Homo sapiens: one gene and its partner. The protein of the gene in region 1 interacts with the protein of each later gene in a biochemical or structural test. Each region holds a gene or a part of one and is shown on either strand. Other genes may lie near its edges.

Region 1 (3,500 bases):
CCCCTGCTGTGCAGAAGAGTTAAACATGGCAAGCATAAATGTTTATGCTTAGAAAGGCCTTCCTGTAAGGTTGACTCTTGGGTGGCCTCTAGAAACCTAGGTTTCTGATAACAGTGGCTCACTATGCCTGAACTGTTAATACAAACAATATGCTTTATGCAGAACACCTGTTCTCCTGCTGGTAGTCTGACATTTTGGTACAGGCTAGGCAGAGTGTGCCTACATTCTGTGCAGACGGTGCCCCAATAAAAATCCTGGGCACTGAGTTTCTAATGAACTTTTTTATGAAACGCTGTTGAGTTTTGTCAAATTTTGTTCTTTGCATCTATTCAGATGATCGTGTGTTTTGTATTCTACTAATATGGTGTATGACATTGACTTTCATATGTTGAACCAATCTTGCATTCCTGGAATTAATCCCACTTAGTCATGGTGTTTAATACTTTGCTAGTACTTCATTGAGAATTTTTGTGTCTATGTTTGTGAGATATTGGTTAGTAGTTTTCTTTTCTTGTGATGTCTTTGGTTTTGGTGCCAGGGTAATACTAGCCTCATACAATATGTTGGGAAATGGTTCCTCTCAGTTTTTTGCAAGAGTTTGTGAAAGGCTGGTATTAATTCCTCTTTGTTTGATAAAATTCACTAGATTATCTTTTAAAGATGTTTAAAATGAAATATCTTTTACATTTAGCCACTTACTTTTCTCCCTGTTATTTTGTGTAGATCTGTATTTCCATTTGTATCACGTTCCTTTTGTATGCAGAGCTTACTTATTCTATTTATTTAAGAGATAGGGTCTCACTCTGTCATACAGGCTGGAGTGCAGTGTGCAGTCACCACTCACTGCAGCCTCAAACTCCTGGGCTTAAGCAATCCTCCCACCTCAGCCTGCCAAGTAGTTGGGAGTACAGGTGTGCCACTGCACTCAGCTAACTAAAAAAGATTTTTTTTAGATACAGGCTAGCTATGTTGCCAACACACCTAGCTAATTTTAATTTTTTTTTTTTTTTTTTTTTTTTTTTTAAGATACAGGCTATGTTGCTCAGGCTGGTGTTGAAGTGGCCTCAAGCAATCCTCCTGCCTTAGCCTCTCAAATAGCTGGAGCAGCCACTGTCTGTAAGCATCTGAAGAGCTTACTCTAATATTTCTCATAATGCAGATTTGTTTGTGATGAATTCCCTCAGCTTTCATTTGTCTGAAAAGGTTTTCAGCATTTTTAGGATATCATAGCATTGACTTGCCGTTTCTGACAAAATGTTGCTATAATTCTTAACTTTGTTCCTCAGTATGTGATGTGTCCTTTTGTGCATAATGCTTTTAAGATTTTCTCTTCTGGGGCCTGGTGTGGTGGCTCATGCCTGTAATCCCAGCACTTTGGGAGGCCAAGGTAGGTGTATCACTTGAGGTCAGGAGTTCGAGACCAGCCCGGCCAACCTGGTGAAACCCTGTCTCTACTAAAAATACAAAAAAAGGTTGGACATGGTGGTGTGTGTCTGTAATCCCAGCTACTCAGGAGCCTGAGGCAGGAGAATCGCTTGAACCTGGGAGTTGCAGGTTGCAGTGAGCCGAGATTGAGCCACTGCACGCCAAGCCTGGGTGACAGAGCAAGGGTCTCAAAAAAAAATTTTTTTTTCTCTTCTTCATTCTTTTTCAGTAATTTGATCATGATCTGCCTTGGCGTGACTTTCTTTAGGTTTAGGTTTATTCTCCCTCTGGTTCATTGACTTTCTTGGATTTGTGGGTTCATAGTTTCATCGAATTTGGGAAAATTTTCACCTATTATTTCTTTACATAAAGTTTCTGTTATCCCCCTTTCTCCTTTCCTTCTGGACTCCACGTGCACATACACTAGACTGGTATATTTCTACAGAGAACTGATTCTTTTTCATTTTTTTCATTTCATTTTGAATTATTTATATTGCTATGTTTTCATGTCTATTGATCCTTTCTTCTAGTGTCTACCCTGCTATTAGTGGATTTTTCATTTCATATATTTTATTTTTCCTCTTTATAAATTCCATTCAGGTTATTTTTTGTATCTTTCATTCCACTCTGCATCATGTTCATGTTTTCCTTTTCATCTTTGAGTGTATTTGTAATAGCCATTTTAAGATTTTTGCTTCTTTCCTGAACTGTTATTTCTGGGCCCTTTCCTATTGACTAATTTTTCTCCTGGTTATGGGTCACACTTTCCTGCTTCTTTGTATGTCCAGCAAAATTTTATTGGATGCTTGATATTTTGAATTTTGCACAGGTAAGTGTTGGATTGTTTTCTTTAGAGTGTTTTGCCTTTTCAGGAACTTTTGGATGGTTGATCAAGTAGCCTTTGTTCTAGAATTAATTTAGCCGTACTTCTAATGTGTGGTCATTCTAGGTTCCCTACTAAATGCCCCTTATAGTTGATAATGCCTCTACACTCTAGCTAGAGGGAATGTGAATTCTTTCTCATCATGAGCTCAAGGAAATGTTCATCCTACAGATCCCTACTATTCTTTCATGGTAAGTTATTCTTGCCTGGCCTCATGGGGTTTCATGTTGTATATATTCAGATTATTCAACCAAAGAATCAAGGAGGGGACTTCTATGCAAGTTATTGTTTTGTTTTTATTTGCATACCTCTGTTCCTTCCAGGACTCTGCCCTGCAAATTCTAGCTGCTTTTGCCTCCTTGAGCCATGGTCTCTGGCTCAACTCAGTGGGATCATTAGACTCATGTCTTACAGCCTGGTGACACTTCCATGCAATAAGCCGGAGTGGTCTGTTCAGTGACCACAGTACTGCAACACCTGCCAACCAGTGTCTGAAAATAGTGGCTCATGTATTTTGTCCAGTTTCTAGTTGCTTACAGTGGGAGGGTATCCTGGACTGTATTTCCCCTGCATGGTCAGCAGCGCACCTCCATTGAGTCTGCATGTGTTTAATCTGATGGCTCTGTTGGCTGGCGTCTGTTATAGGTTATAAGTATAGCTGCCTGTGCTTCCACCACGAGCACCTGGGGTGTCTTGTGGCATGATTGAGCTAGCTCTGAAGCTGACTCCCTCTTCTCACTCCCTGCCTTTTCTCCCTTACCTTTTGCAGAAAAGGTGTGAGCGGTACTGGGCCCAGGAGCAGGAGCCACTGCAGACTGGGCTTTTCTGCATCACTCTGGTGAGCTGTGGGAGTTTTCAAGGAAGATTCCCAGGGTGGAAAGGCTTTGGGTTGGGCCTAAAAGGTTGAATGATTTAACCCACAGTCCACTCATACTGCAGGAAACCCTCTGGTGTTAGCCTGCAAATAGTTAGAACTTACTATAGGGATAGCCTTTGCATTTTTATTTTGGCTACAATCAGTTAATCTCTGTCATGTAAATGTGCCTGGTTAGGTTGTTGAAATTCTTACTTCTCTTACCATTTCAAAAGAGCTTGGGGAACTCTCTCAAGTCATACATACAGTTAGTACTTAATAAATGCAATAAAAGTTTCATTTTAGAACAAAAGACATCTCTTTTCATTGCAAAAGGGC
Region 2 (3,500 bases), on another chromosome or scaffold:
ACTAGTTGCCAAATTTCTGGGAGGCGATGTCCCAGGGCTCTCTCATCATGGAGTTTAGGAAGGCTTGGTGAGATAATCAAGTGGGTTTGGAAACAGACACCTCTGAGTTGAAAGGAAACTGTAGTGTCTCCAGGTGTTAGCTCTCTTCACCCCTTGTGCACAGATTGTTCACAGCAGGGGCGAGTGTGTGGGTATGTTTCTGTGTGTGTGTGTATATGTATGTATGGATGGATGTACGTGAATCTACTTGTAATGGGATAGAAATATGATACTGATTGGGAAACCTGAATGGCCTGGAATTCATTGCAGTCTGAAAGTGACTATTTCATGTAATAATTACACAGGCACAGTTGGATCTTCTGACGTCTTCATTACCAGTAATGATGGCCCTAGAAACCATTTCACCAGTTTTCTGCTCCCTCTTCCATGTTGAGAATATGATTTAGATTGTATGACAGAATTGCTCTTAATGTGTCTTCATTACTGTGCCTTTTAAAGTCATATCAAGCAGGCTCATACTTGGTATATGGTAAAGAAAAATACTACTTTTGTGTTGTTTGCATCCCAAGTTAGCCACTTCCAGGGACACAGATCACTCTGGATACTGTCTACATGGTGGGAGAAAATTCTGTTTTTCTACTTCATGGCAGTTCTCTGGAAAGATACATGGACCAAAACTGTCTGTGACAGGACTGGATTGTGCAGGAATCAAACTCAATGGATCTGCCAGGTTGGACTTGGTTCATTTTAAATGGAGAAGACAGTCCTTTGTCAGGTTGGAGTTGGTTCATTTTAAGTGGGGAAGACAGTACTTTGTCATAAAATGCCTTTACAAAGTTATATATAATTATGTGTATTCAGGTATCATTTACCTATAGTAAAATGCATATCTTAGATATATAATTTGATGAGTTTTAAGCGATGTATGCACTCATGTTAATCACTCAAATGAAGATAGAGAACATTTTCATCACCCCAGAAATTTTTCTCATGTTCCTGTCCAGTTAATTCCCCCCTCCCCCTGCACCATAGATCTACCATAGAATAATTTTGTCTTCAACTTCATAAAAATGAACTAATGCAGTATGTACTCTTTTGTGTTTGGCTTTTGTTACTCAACAAAATATTTTGGAGATTTCGTTTTGTTGCATGTGTACTTCATTTGGTTCTTTTTTTATTGCTAAGTAATATTCCATTGTATACACATACCAGTTTGTCCTTTTGCTTGTTTATGGACATTTGGAGTATTTACCATTTTTTACTATTACGAATAAAGCTGTTATTAATGTTTCAGTTGCTCTACATCTTTGGCCATCTTTGATTTTGTTTGTCTTTTGAATTTTAGCCGTCCTAGTATATGCTTCGGAAAAATGTAATTAAGGAAACTTTGATACAGGATATAAGATGTCGCTAGTATGTATTAAGATCTTGCCTTAGAATATAATAGGTGCTTGGCTAAGCTGATGCTTCGTGGGCATTCTCTTTTTCAGTCCTTACAATTGGACTCAGATGTTAGAAGCTGAGGTTCAGAGAATTTGGGTAACTTTTCCAAGGGTCATACCACAGTGGCAGTAGAGCTGCAACCCAGCTCTGTCTGATTCCAAAGCCTGTGCTCCCAATTCCTGGGACAGTAGGTCTCCAAGTGAGGTCCTCAGACCAGTGGCATTAGTATAGTAACCTGGGAACTGGTTAGAAATCCAGATTCCTGGGCCCCACCTTAGTTCTACCAATTCAGAAGCTTTGCGGGGGATGGGGTTGGGGTTGGGGGGTGGGGTAACAACCATGGGGTGTTTTAATAAACCCTCAAGGGATTCTGATGGGCTTATTAAGGGATTCAAGGGTTCAGTTTTAAGAACTACTGTACTAGGGTATAGACCAAAATTGAGAAGATGACATCAGATGAGACAGGTGACCTGGGTTCTAGAATAAGCTCTGCCAGTCACATTCTTGGAGCCTACATTTCTCTATGCCAAAAATAAGTGGGTGAGCCTCTTCAGGTTATTTGTGCTCGTGAAATCCTTTGTTTCCATGAATCACCCAGACTCCAAAGGTTTAAAATGGTATGATTGTAGTTTCCCAAAGTGGTGTATTACAGGTCATGCTTACATATTTTTGCAGGTGAATTTTGTGGTTTTTCAAATTACCCAGGAACTGTAACTATCCCTCTACTTTTTGTGTATGTGTGGCAGTGTGGAGATAATAAAAGAGATACAATTTAAAAGCCAAACCAAACCACCACCAGACCCTTCCCCTCACTGTAATGAGGGAAATTGTGATCACATATGGTTGAATATAGTTCTTTGTGTGGTTTTTTGTTTTGGTATTGTTTTGATTCATTGGAATGTATGACAATAACTCTCATTTTAAAACACAGGGCCTTGTCTTTCAGAGTTGTTTGGTTTCTCATGAATCTCTGGTCTTGCTTCTTTCTCCTCAGTGACCTCCTTCTGGTGTGCTGTAAAATGCTTAACAACCAGTGCTAGTAGTGGGTAGACCCTGATTTATAGCATAGCTGGAGTTGGGAAGAGACGCGTATACTTGCTGTTCCCAAGCCAATGTGAGCTGGCCCCCACACACCACTGACTGCATATAAGATAGTGCCCTTGTGGTGGCTCACCTGTAATCCCAGCACCTTGGGAGGCCAAGGTGGGTGGATCACTTGAGCTCAGGAGTTTAAGACCAGCCTGGGCAACATGGTGAAGTCTCTACCAAAAAATACATAAACTAGCTGGGCGTGGTGGCGAACTTCTGTAGTCCCAGCTACTCGGGAGGCAGAGTGGGAGAATCGCTTGAGACCAGGAGGCAGAGGTTGCAGTGAGCCAAGATTGTACCACTGCACTCCAGCCTGGGTGACAGAGTGAGACCCCCATCTCACACACACACACAAAAGATAGCTCCCTGAGTAAAGTGCCATTCCCTCACCCTGTTTGTTCCTTCATAGCCTTGACACAATCTCGTATTATCTTCTGTTGTTGTTGTTGTTGTTTTTTTTTTTTTTTTTTTTGAGATGGAGTTTCGCTCTGTTGCCCAGGCTGGAGTGCAGTGGTGCGATCTCGGCTCACTGCAACCTTTGCCTCCCGGGTTCAAGCAATTCTGATGCTTAGCCTCCCGAGTAGCTGGCATTATAGGCATGTACCACCATGCCTGGCTAATTTTTTGTATTTTAGTACAGGTGGGGTTTCGCCATGTTGCCCAGGCTGGTCTCTTGAGCTCAGGCAATCTGCCTGCCGCCTTGGCCTCCCGAAGTGCTAGGATTGTAGGCGTGAGCCACCGCAACGGGCCCTGTTTCTTCTTTATTGTCTGTTTCCCCTCCCATGAGAATAGAAGTTCCATGAAAACAAGAAGCTTGTCTCTCTTGTTCACTGCTGTATTTCTCAGTGTCTAAAAAAGACCCAGCAGGGCCAGGCGTGGTGGCTCATGCCTGTAATCCCAGCACTTTGGGAGGCCGAGGTGGGTGGATCACAAGGTCAGGAGTTCAAGACCAGCCTGGCCAAGATGGT

What was found. The genes of interacting proteins can lie anywhere in the genome.
Region 2: the proteins of PTPN18 (region 1) and MAGI1 interact in a test that uses a peptide from one of them, tested with the Homo sapiens proteins (one large-scale study listed by IntAct).

What each region holds. Positions count from the first base shown.
Region 1 is NC_000002.12:130,366,056-130,369,555, forward strand, and holds part of PTPN18 (tyrosine-protein phosphatase non-receptor type 18), read left to right. Parts: intron 1-3,077; coding exon 3,078-3,146; intron 3,147-3,500. UniProt on the Homo sapiens protein: Differentially dephosphorylate autophosphorylated tyrosine kinases which are known to be overexpressed in tumor tissues.
Region 2 is NC_000003.12:66,032,419-66,035,918, reverse strand, and holds part of MAGI1 (membrane-associated guanylate kinase, WW and PDZ domain-containing protein 1), read left to right. Parts: intron 1-3,500. UniProt on the Homo sapiens protein: Plays a role in coupling actin fibers to cell junctions in endothelial cells, via its interaction with AMOTL2 and CDH5. May regulate acid-induced ASIC3 currents by modulating its expression at the cell surface.